2 linked regions of the Homo sapiens genome follow. The protein of the gene in region 1 purifies or fractionates together with the protein of each later gene. This does not show direct contact. Each region holds a gene or a part of one and is shown in the gene's direction. Other genes may lie near its edges.

The links.
Region 2: the proteins of PRODH (region 1) and BRAP purify together in Homo sapiens (affinity purification with mass spectrometry; 2 studies listed by BioGRID and IntAct, with this or other methods). This does not show direct contact.

The regions. Positions count from the first base shown.
Region 1 is NC_000022.11:18,922,724-18,926,533, reverse strand, and holds part of PRODH (proline dehydrogenase 1, mitochondrial isoform 1 precursor), read left to right. Parts: intron 1-811; coding exon 812-846; intron 847-1,333; coding exon 1,334-1,483; intron 1,484-3,354; coding exon 3,355-3,419; intron 3,420-3,600; coding exon 3,601-3,717; intron 3,718-3,810. UniProt on the Homo sapiens protein: Converts proline to delta-1-pyrroline-5-carboxylate.
Region 2 is NC_000012.12:111,665,368-111,669,177, reverse strand, and holds part of BRAP (BRCA1-associated protein), read left to right. Parts: exon of another isoform or gene 1-220; intron 221-538; exon of another isoform or gene 539-943; intron 944-1,250; exon of another isoform or gene 1,251-1,458; intron 1,459-1,762; exon of another isoform or gene 1,763-2,247; intron 2,248-3,390; coding exon 3,391-3,539; intron 3,540-3,810. UniProt on the Homo sapiens protein: Negatively regulates MAP kinase activation by limiting the formation of Raf/MEK complexes probably by inactivation of the KSR1 scaffold protein.

The DNA.
Region 1 (3,810 bases):
GGGAATGGGGGTGCTGGCCAGGCGGGGATGGAGAGGCTTCTGCAGGAAGGACAGGGGCTTGGCTGAGCAGAGTGTGGCCAGCCTAGCGGGGGACAGCCTGCATCCTGGCCTCACTGGTCTTGAGGTGCCCAAGCCAGGGGCCCAGGACTTTGGGCATTACTAGGAAATGATGGGAACCCTGGGTGGGGTGGCGTGAAACAAGATGAGATGGTAAGATCTGCTTTCACTTTAAAGGAACATTTCTGGTTGTTGCTTGGAAAAGAAGTGTCGGGGCAAGAATGCTACAGGAGGGCCGGCCTGGAGGACAGGGCGGGACTGCAGGGCTGGCTGTGCGGGGGCAGGAGCCTGTGCTTGCATCAGAGCTGCCTGGGAGACCCTGGCTCTGGGGTGGAGGCCTGAGTAAGGGGGCCTCGCTGGGGATTTGGGGACCTCTGTGTGCTGGTGCCTTCCCGCCTCCGTTCCTCTCAGCCCTGACTGGCTCTGTCTTGGAACCAGGTAACTACCTTTATTTGAGAACCTGCTGCAAGCCCTGGGCTGTTCTGAGAGCTCAGGAATATCGTTCTGATTTCTCCACCCACAAGGAGCCCCGGGCTTCCTGAGCCCTTGGGACACAGCAGCCCCATAAACTGCTGCCCCTCCCAGGCCCAAGTGTTCCACCCCAGGCTAGGGGTGGGGCTGGGGCTGCACCTTGGAATCTACCCTCCACCGGGGTTGTGGTGGGGCCCTCCGTGCAGCCTCAGTGGGAACGTGCCTGTCACCTGAGGCTCAGGTGGCGTGACCCTGACCTTTGCTCTCCCCCTCCTTCCCACAGGTCCTGCACCTCAGCTGCGGAGAGGGATGGCAGTGGTGAGTGAGAGGCTGCCGCGCAGGAACAGACTCCCTCCCGACTCCGCACACCCCTTGGTGGCTCAGGAGAGTCTAGGCTGGGGCACAAGTGGGCCTTGGGGTGACGTCGGAGCCCGGGCTCCTCCCTATGTCCAGGGCACCTGCCCTGTCGCTCTGGGCTCTGACATACTCGCAAGTGTCTGGGGAGACGCCCTGCTCCTTTTTCATGGCCTCCTGGTGGACCTAGGCCTTTGTTAAGGAGACTGCCGTCCTGGCCTCATGAGGAGGCTTAGCCAGGGGGATGCAGCACTCCAGGTGGAAGAGCCGCGGTGTAGACAGGAGGGTGGGCTTGGGGATGGGAACCATGGGGCAGTGCAGTGCCAGGGCCAGGCTGGCAAGGCCACTATGCTTGGAGCCCTCCTGAGGGCAGGGGCCCTGGGCTATTGGTGTGTGGGTGCTGGGGGTGGGTGTTTGGAGCTGTGCTCAGGCCGTGCATTCGCTATTCCAGGCACGAATAAGCGGGACAAGCAATACCAGGCCCACTGGGCCTTCGGGGACCGCAGGAATGGTGTCATCAGTGCCCGCACCTACTTCTACGCCAATGAGGCCAAGTGCGACAGCCACATGGAGACATTCTTGCGCTGCATCGAAGCCTCAGGTGGGGCCCCCTCTTTGCTGGCTATACCCCTGCCATGTCCCAGCCTGAGCGGACCCCTGGGCTCATGGAGGTGCCGGTGGGTGAACACTAAGCTGGGGCAGGAGCCAGAGGGCTGGGTTCTGACCACACTTGGGTCCCTCACTGTTCAGCCCCTTCCTGAGGGGCCCCACTGCCTCCCAGAAGGCATCTCCTCTCCTGCCCCAGCTCCCTGTTCCCTGATCCCGCCTCATGCCCCCCACCCTTCTCCCTGGCTCAGGGCCAGGATCGGGAGCTGCAGGAAGTTGGTCCATGTCAGCTGCCGAGCCACACTTAGCCCAGGGTGGAGGTTCCATTCAGGGAGCTGGTGCCGCATCTTCTGTCCTTCCCTGACACAGCCTCTGGGGGCCAGCGGTGGGGGCAGCAGGTGTTTCCAGGGATAGAGAAGCCAGAGGTCAGCAAGGCCCAATGTCCTTCAGTGTTAGAAACATCCGACCTGCACAGCCCCATGCTGGCCCCAGCAGCCCTCCGTCAGGGGCAGCGGGTCCCAGGCCTGTTTATGTTTTTGTTTGTTTGCTTCAAATGAGACTGGATCTTGCTCTGTCACCCAGGCTGGAGTGCTCACGCCTCTAATCCCAGCAATTTGGGAGGCCAAGGCGGGTGGATTGCCTGAGCTCAGTTCAAGACCAGCCTGGGCAACATGGTGAAACTCCGTCTCCACTAAAATACAAAAAATTAGCCGGGCGTGGCAGCAGGCGCTTGTAATCCCAGCTACTTGGGAGGCTGAGACAGGAGAATCACTTGAATCCAGGAGGCGGAGGTTGCAGTGAGCCAAGATTGCGCCACTGCACTCCAGCCTGGGCGACAGAGTGAGACTCCATCTCAAAAAAAAAAAAAAAAAATGAGGTCTCACTATGTTGCCCTGGTTGGCCTGGAACTCCTGGGCTCAAGTGATCCCTCCACCTTGGCCTCCCAAAGTGCTGGGATTACAGGCACACACTACCACACCCAGCTAATTTTCATATTTTTTGTAGAGATGGTGTTTCACCATGTTGCCCAGGCTGGTCTCAAACTCCTGGCCTCAAGCGAACCTTACACTTTGGCCTCCCAAAGTGCTGGGATTATAGGTGCATGCCGCTGCACCTGGCACTTCTGAGCAGTGCTTGGAAGCCGCCTCCTGATGGGGGCTGAGGGTCAGAGTGGCCAGCTGAATGCTGGGCCATCAGGGTGAGGGGCGTCTTCTCCTCGTCCATTGCCTGTTCTCCCAGGGCAGGTGGAAGGGGAAGGCCCTGCATTGGGGTGGCGTGAAACAAGATGAGATGGTAAGATCTGCTTTCACTTTAAAGGAACATTTCTGGTTGTTGCTTGGAAAGAAGTGTCAGGGGCAAGAATGCTGCAGGAGGGCTGGCCTGGAGGACAGGGTGGGACTGCGGGCTGGCTGCACGGGGGCAGGAGCCTGCGCTTGCGTCAGAGGTTCCTGAGAGACTCGGTCTCTGGGGCAGAGGCCTGAGCAAGGGGACCTCGCTGGGGTGTCTCTGTCTTAGCCACGCTCGGTGTTTCTGGGTCCTGTGACCCACGTGTGAGCAGCCTGTGGTGCTGGTGGCACAGGGAAGGAAACCGAGGCAGGGAGCCTGTGGGGGCTGCTTGGCAGGGGACAGGCAGCTCCTGTGCCCACTGCTGTCCCACACCTGCATGGAAACAGAAACCCCGCCACGGAGCCCCCTCCCATCTCCACAGGGCCTCTAGAGCGCCATGTGCAAGGACTTCATGGGCGGGGTGGGGTGGGGTCAGGAGCCTGCTGTGGGCTGGCCAGGCCCTGGCCCTCCCTGTCGCACCCTGCGCTGCCTCCATGCACCTCTCAGGGCTGTCATGGCTTTTCCTGTGGCTTCTGACAGGTAGAGTCAGCGATGACGGCTTCATAGCCATTAAGCTCACAGCACTGGGGAGACCCCAGTTTCTGGTAAGTGCTAGAACCTTCCACCTGCAGAGTCTGGTGCTGTGCGAGATCTCAGGGCAGCTGTGGGCATCCACCAAAAACACAGGTGCCCATGCCTTAGAGGCCTGAGCTGGCCACAGGGGCTGTGTGGGGGACTGGGGTGGGCAGGGGCGTGTGCAGATGGCATTCAGGCCTGCGTTTGCAGCTGCAGTTCTCAGAGGTGCTGGCCAAGTGGAGGTGCTTCTTTCACCAAATGGCTGTGGAGCAAGGGCAGGCGGGCCTGGCTGCCATGGACACCAAGCTGGAGGTGGCGGTGCTGCAGGTGGGGCAGCCTTCCCCTTCCCCACTCCTGTGGCTTGTGAGGGGGTGGGCACCGTGGGGTCACACGGGGCATGGTGGGCAGTGGTCGGAGGTG
Region 2 (3,810 bases), on another chromosome or scaffold:
ACTCCCTTATTACCTAAACTTGTCTGGCTCCCAGGAACAGCCTTCTAGAGACAGGGAGTATTGGGAGGAAAACGTTACTTAACTATTGACTGAACGTAAATTTAGATAAAATTAAAATGCAGCTTTTTTCCTTATAGGCATTTGTTTTGTTTCAAGTCATCATAAAGTAGGTATTGCATTGCTATCAGTGGATACAGATGCTTAGCTCTTAAAAGAATTTTTTTTGGCCAGACGCAGTGGCTCACGCCTGTAATCCCAGCACTTTGGGAGGTTGAGGGTGGATCACGAGGTCAGGAGATCGAGACCATCTTGGTTAACATGGTGAAAACCCATCTCTACTAAAAATACAAAAAATTAGCTAGGCGTTGTGGTGGGCACCTGTAGTCCCAGCTACTCGGGAGGCTGAGGCAGGAGAATGGCGTGAACCCGGGAGGCGGAGCTTGCAGTGAGCCGAGATTGTGCCACTGCACTCCAGCCTGGGCGACAGAGCGAGACTCTGTCTCAAAAAAAACAAATTAAAAAAAAAAAAAAAGAATTCTTTTTAATGTAAACTGTTGAATATTTGAAATAGCCCACTTCACCTTAATGGGTCTTGTGTATCTTCATTTGTCTTCAAAGAAAAACCATTTGCTACCAAAGTAAATCAGTATTTCGAATGTGCTTCTCTTGTTTTTTGTTTATTAGCTAGTTGCTGTAAGCATTTCCACCAGAACTTGAGCCAAATCATAAGGAAGCTGTTTCTTTTAAAATACAAACCACCACCAAAAAATTAAATGTACATATTAAGCATTTGACTATTTTTATTTTTTTAAAAAGTATAAACACCAAAAAAAAAAAAATTAACATTGTATGAAGATGGAAAACAAGAAGATACACTTTCTGTAACTTTGTCTGAGGATTTAAATTACTAACTTGTGAATCCAATTTAAATTGAACTTAACTACTGGCTTCCCCCACACCCCGCCCCGACCCAGACGGAGTCTTGCTCTGTCGCCCAGGCTGGAGTGCATTGGAGCAGTCTCGGCTCACTGCAGCCTATGCCTCCCAGGTTCAAGTGATTCTCCTGCCTCAGCCTCCTGAGTAGCTGGGATTACAGGTATGCACCACCATGCCCAGCTAATTTTTGTGTTCTTAGTAGAGATGGGGTTTCACCACGTTGGCCAGGCTGGTCTCAAACTCTTGACCTCGTGATCCGCCTGCCTTGGCCTCCCAAAGTGCTGGGATTACGGGTGTGAGCCACCGTGCCAGCCCCAGCTTTCTTACTAGTAAAATTACATGGTTGATTTTAAATGTATACATGTTGACCAATGGCCTCTCAAAAAGCACATTTTAGATACTGGAGTAGAAGGAAAGAAAATGCATCTTCAAACATTTTTTTGGAATCTCACCACATATACTTTGTGAGATTTGTATATTGTAGGGTGTTAGTTTTTGTATTTTTGTATTGTGTATGAGCTTTTTTTTTTTTTTTTTTTTTTTGAGACGGAGTTTCACTCTGTCTCCCAGGCTGGAGTGCAGTGGTGTGATCTCAGCTCACTGCATCCTCTACCTCCTGGGTTCAAGAAATTCTCTGCCTCATCCTCCCAAGTAACTGGGATTACAGGCACCCACGACCACACCCGGCTAATTTTTTGTGTTTTTAGTGGAGACAGGGTTTCACCCTCTTGGCCAGGCTGATCTTGAACTCCTGACCTTGTGATCCACCCGCCTCGGCCTCCCAAAGTGCTGGACTTAACAGGCGTGAGCCACCCCGCCCGGCATCTTTTTTAATGTGACAGTTAAACACATCTTTAAAAGCATAGTCACAGACAAAAGAAGCATACAGTATAAACATTTCCTTGAAAACTCCTACAATATTATATTTGGAGGCAGCTTCAGACTGTTTTATTGGTGGTAACTGCTCGCTGAGCTCTTTTAGTTGGTAATAACTCCAGAGAAGCATCCTGTGTATATTCCTAACACTTGTTCACTAGCATTTAAGTTTAGAATGAGCCCCAAGTAAAACAATGGAAATGTATATAGAACTCTTAGTTCTTACATGATTTAATTATATCAAAATACATGAATTTAACTTACTTTAATGTAGGCAAACTATCAATTTTTGTCCATTTTCCTGTTTGTTAACATACCTCTCCTAGATATTCTTTTCTTGACCCAAATGAAATATTAACCTAAGGTCAAGCTGGGAGAGAGAAACAACTGAGATGAATGTCTTTACTAAAATACCGATAAATTTGTCAAACTCAAAAAAAAATTGACGTGATAAAATTGGGCATCCTTTGTGCTGGCTGCTGCACGAGGCCTCAGTTTTAGAGATTCCTTTCTTAAATGAACGTGGCTTCTTGAGAGATTTCCTGTAAGTATCTACTCTTCAGGGACTGTAGGTTAATGTGCTTTTTCTCTGTCCATAAGTGTGTGCTCCCTGACCTTTGCCTAAGTAATTCTTTCTCGTCTTCTGGCTGGAAGCGTCAAGTCAAGCACTGTCTTAGGAATGCCTTTCCTGACCATCTAGACTGTCATGCCCCCTAATTCACACCCTGTTGTGGCTTCCTGTACTGTTTGCTTTTTAATTTGATTTTTGTCTCTCCCTCCACTAGATTCTAAACTCTGTGGGGGCAGGAGCTGACTGTTTTTTGGACTTAACGTATCTGTTTTTGCTCACCACTGTTCCACACCTAGAACAGTGTCTGTCTGCTGCACATAGCAGGGGCTCAATCTCTATCTGTACAATGAGGGAATAAAGAAAAATCAGTGTTGTTGGTGCTGTCATCACTGAGTAGAAAGTGTTAAGTTATAACTTACTCTATGGAAAAATCCTTCAGGTCCAGCTATTCTTTTGTTCCTTTGTGTTCTATTATAGTCGTAGACACTTAGAGCTTGAGCTAGGAGTCTGGTCACATTTGAGATTTATATGTTAAGGTTTTGACAGCAGTCTCCCTTCCTGGAATGTCAGTTCTGTAAGGGCAGAGATCTTTGTTTTGTTCACCGCTGTACTCCCAGTACCTGGCACAGTGCTGGAACACAGGAGGTACTCCATCCCTGTTTCTTGAATGAATGAATAAATGAATGAAAATATTACCAATTTAAATTACTTGCTTAGAGTAATGATATTGAGGATATCCTGCCAGGAGTCAAAAAAGCAACTAGAAAACTATTATTAAAAGAAGAAAGGCCTGGCACAGTGGCTCATGCCTGTAGTCCCAGCTACTGGGGAGCCTGAGGTGGGCAGATCTCTTGAGCCTGGGAGGTCAAGGCTGTAATGAGCCATGATTGCGCCACTGGGCTCCAGCGTGGGTGACAGAGAGCGAGACCCTGTCTCAGAAAAAAGAAGGAAAAATAAAGTATTGCTGGTAGATGAAGAGTGAGGCTTATGTGAGGTGTTTCCTGTAGGGCGCCAGCCTCCCAGTGATGGACCTGACTGAACTCCCCAAGTGCACGGTGTGTCTGGAGCGCATGGACGAGTCTGTGAATGGCATCCTCACAACGTTATGTAACCACAGCTTCCACAGCCAGTGTCTACAGCGCTGGGACGATACCACGTGAGTGCAGGGGCCGAACCCCTCTGTGTACAAGCCCATTGCAACCCTTCCAGAATTAAAAAGAGCCACCAGCAGAAATGAACCATTCCAAGTATTTGACTTTATTCAAGAGGTCCTTTTTCTCCTTCCCTTTCCTAAGTTCAGGGAATCGGCATTCTGAGACCAAGTCCTTTTTTAGTATGCTGATTCTGAACCCTTGTGGAATTCCCCAAAGCAGCATGAGTTGTTCTTTCCTTCCAAGAGCCAGAGAGTGAAAAAAAAAAGCAAAGCT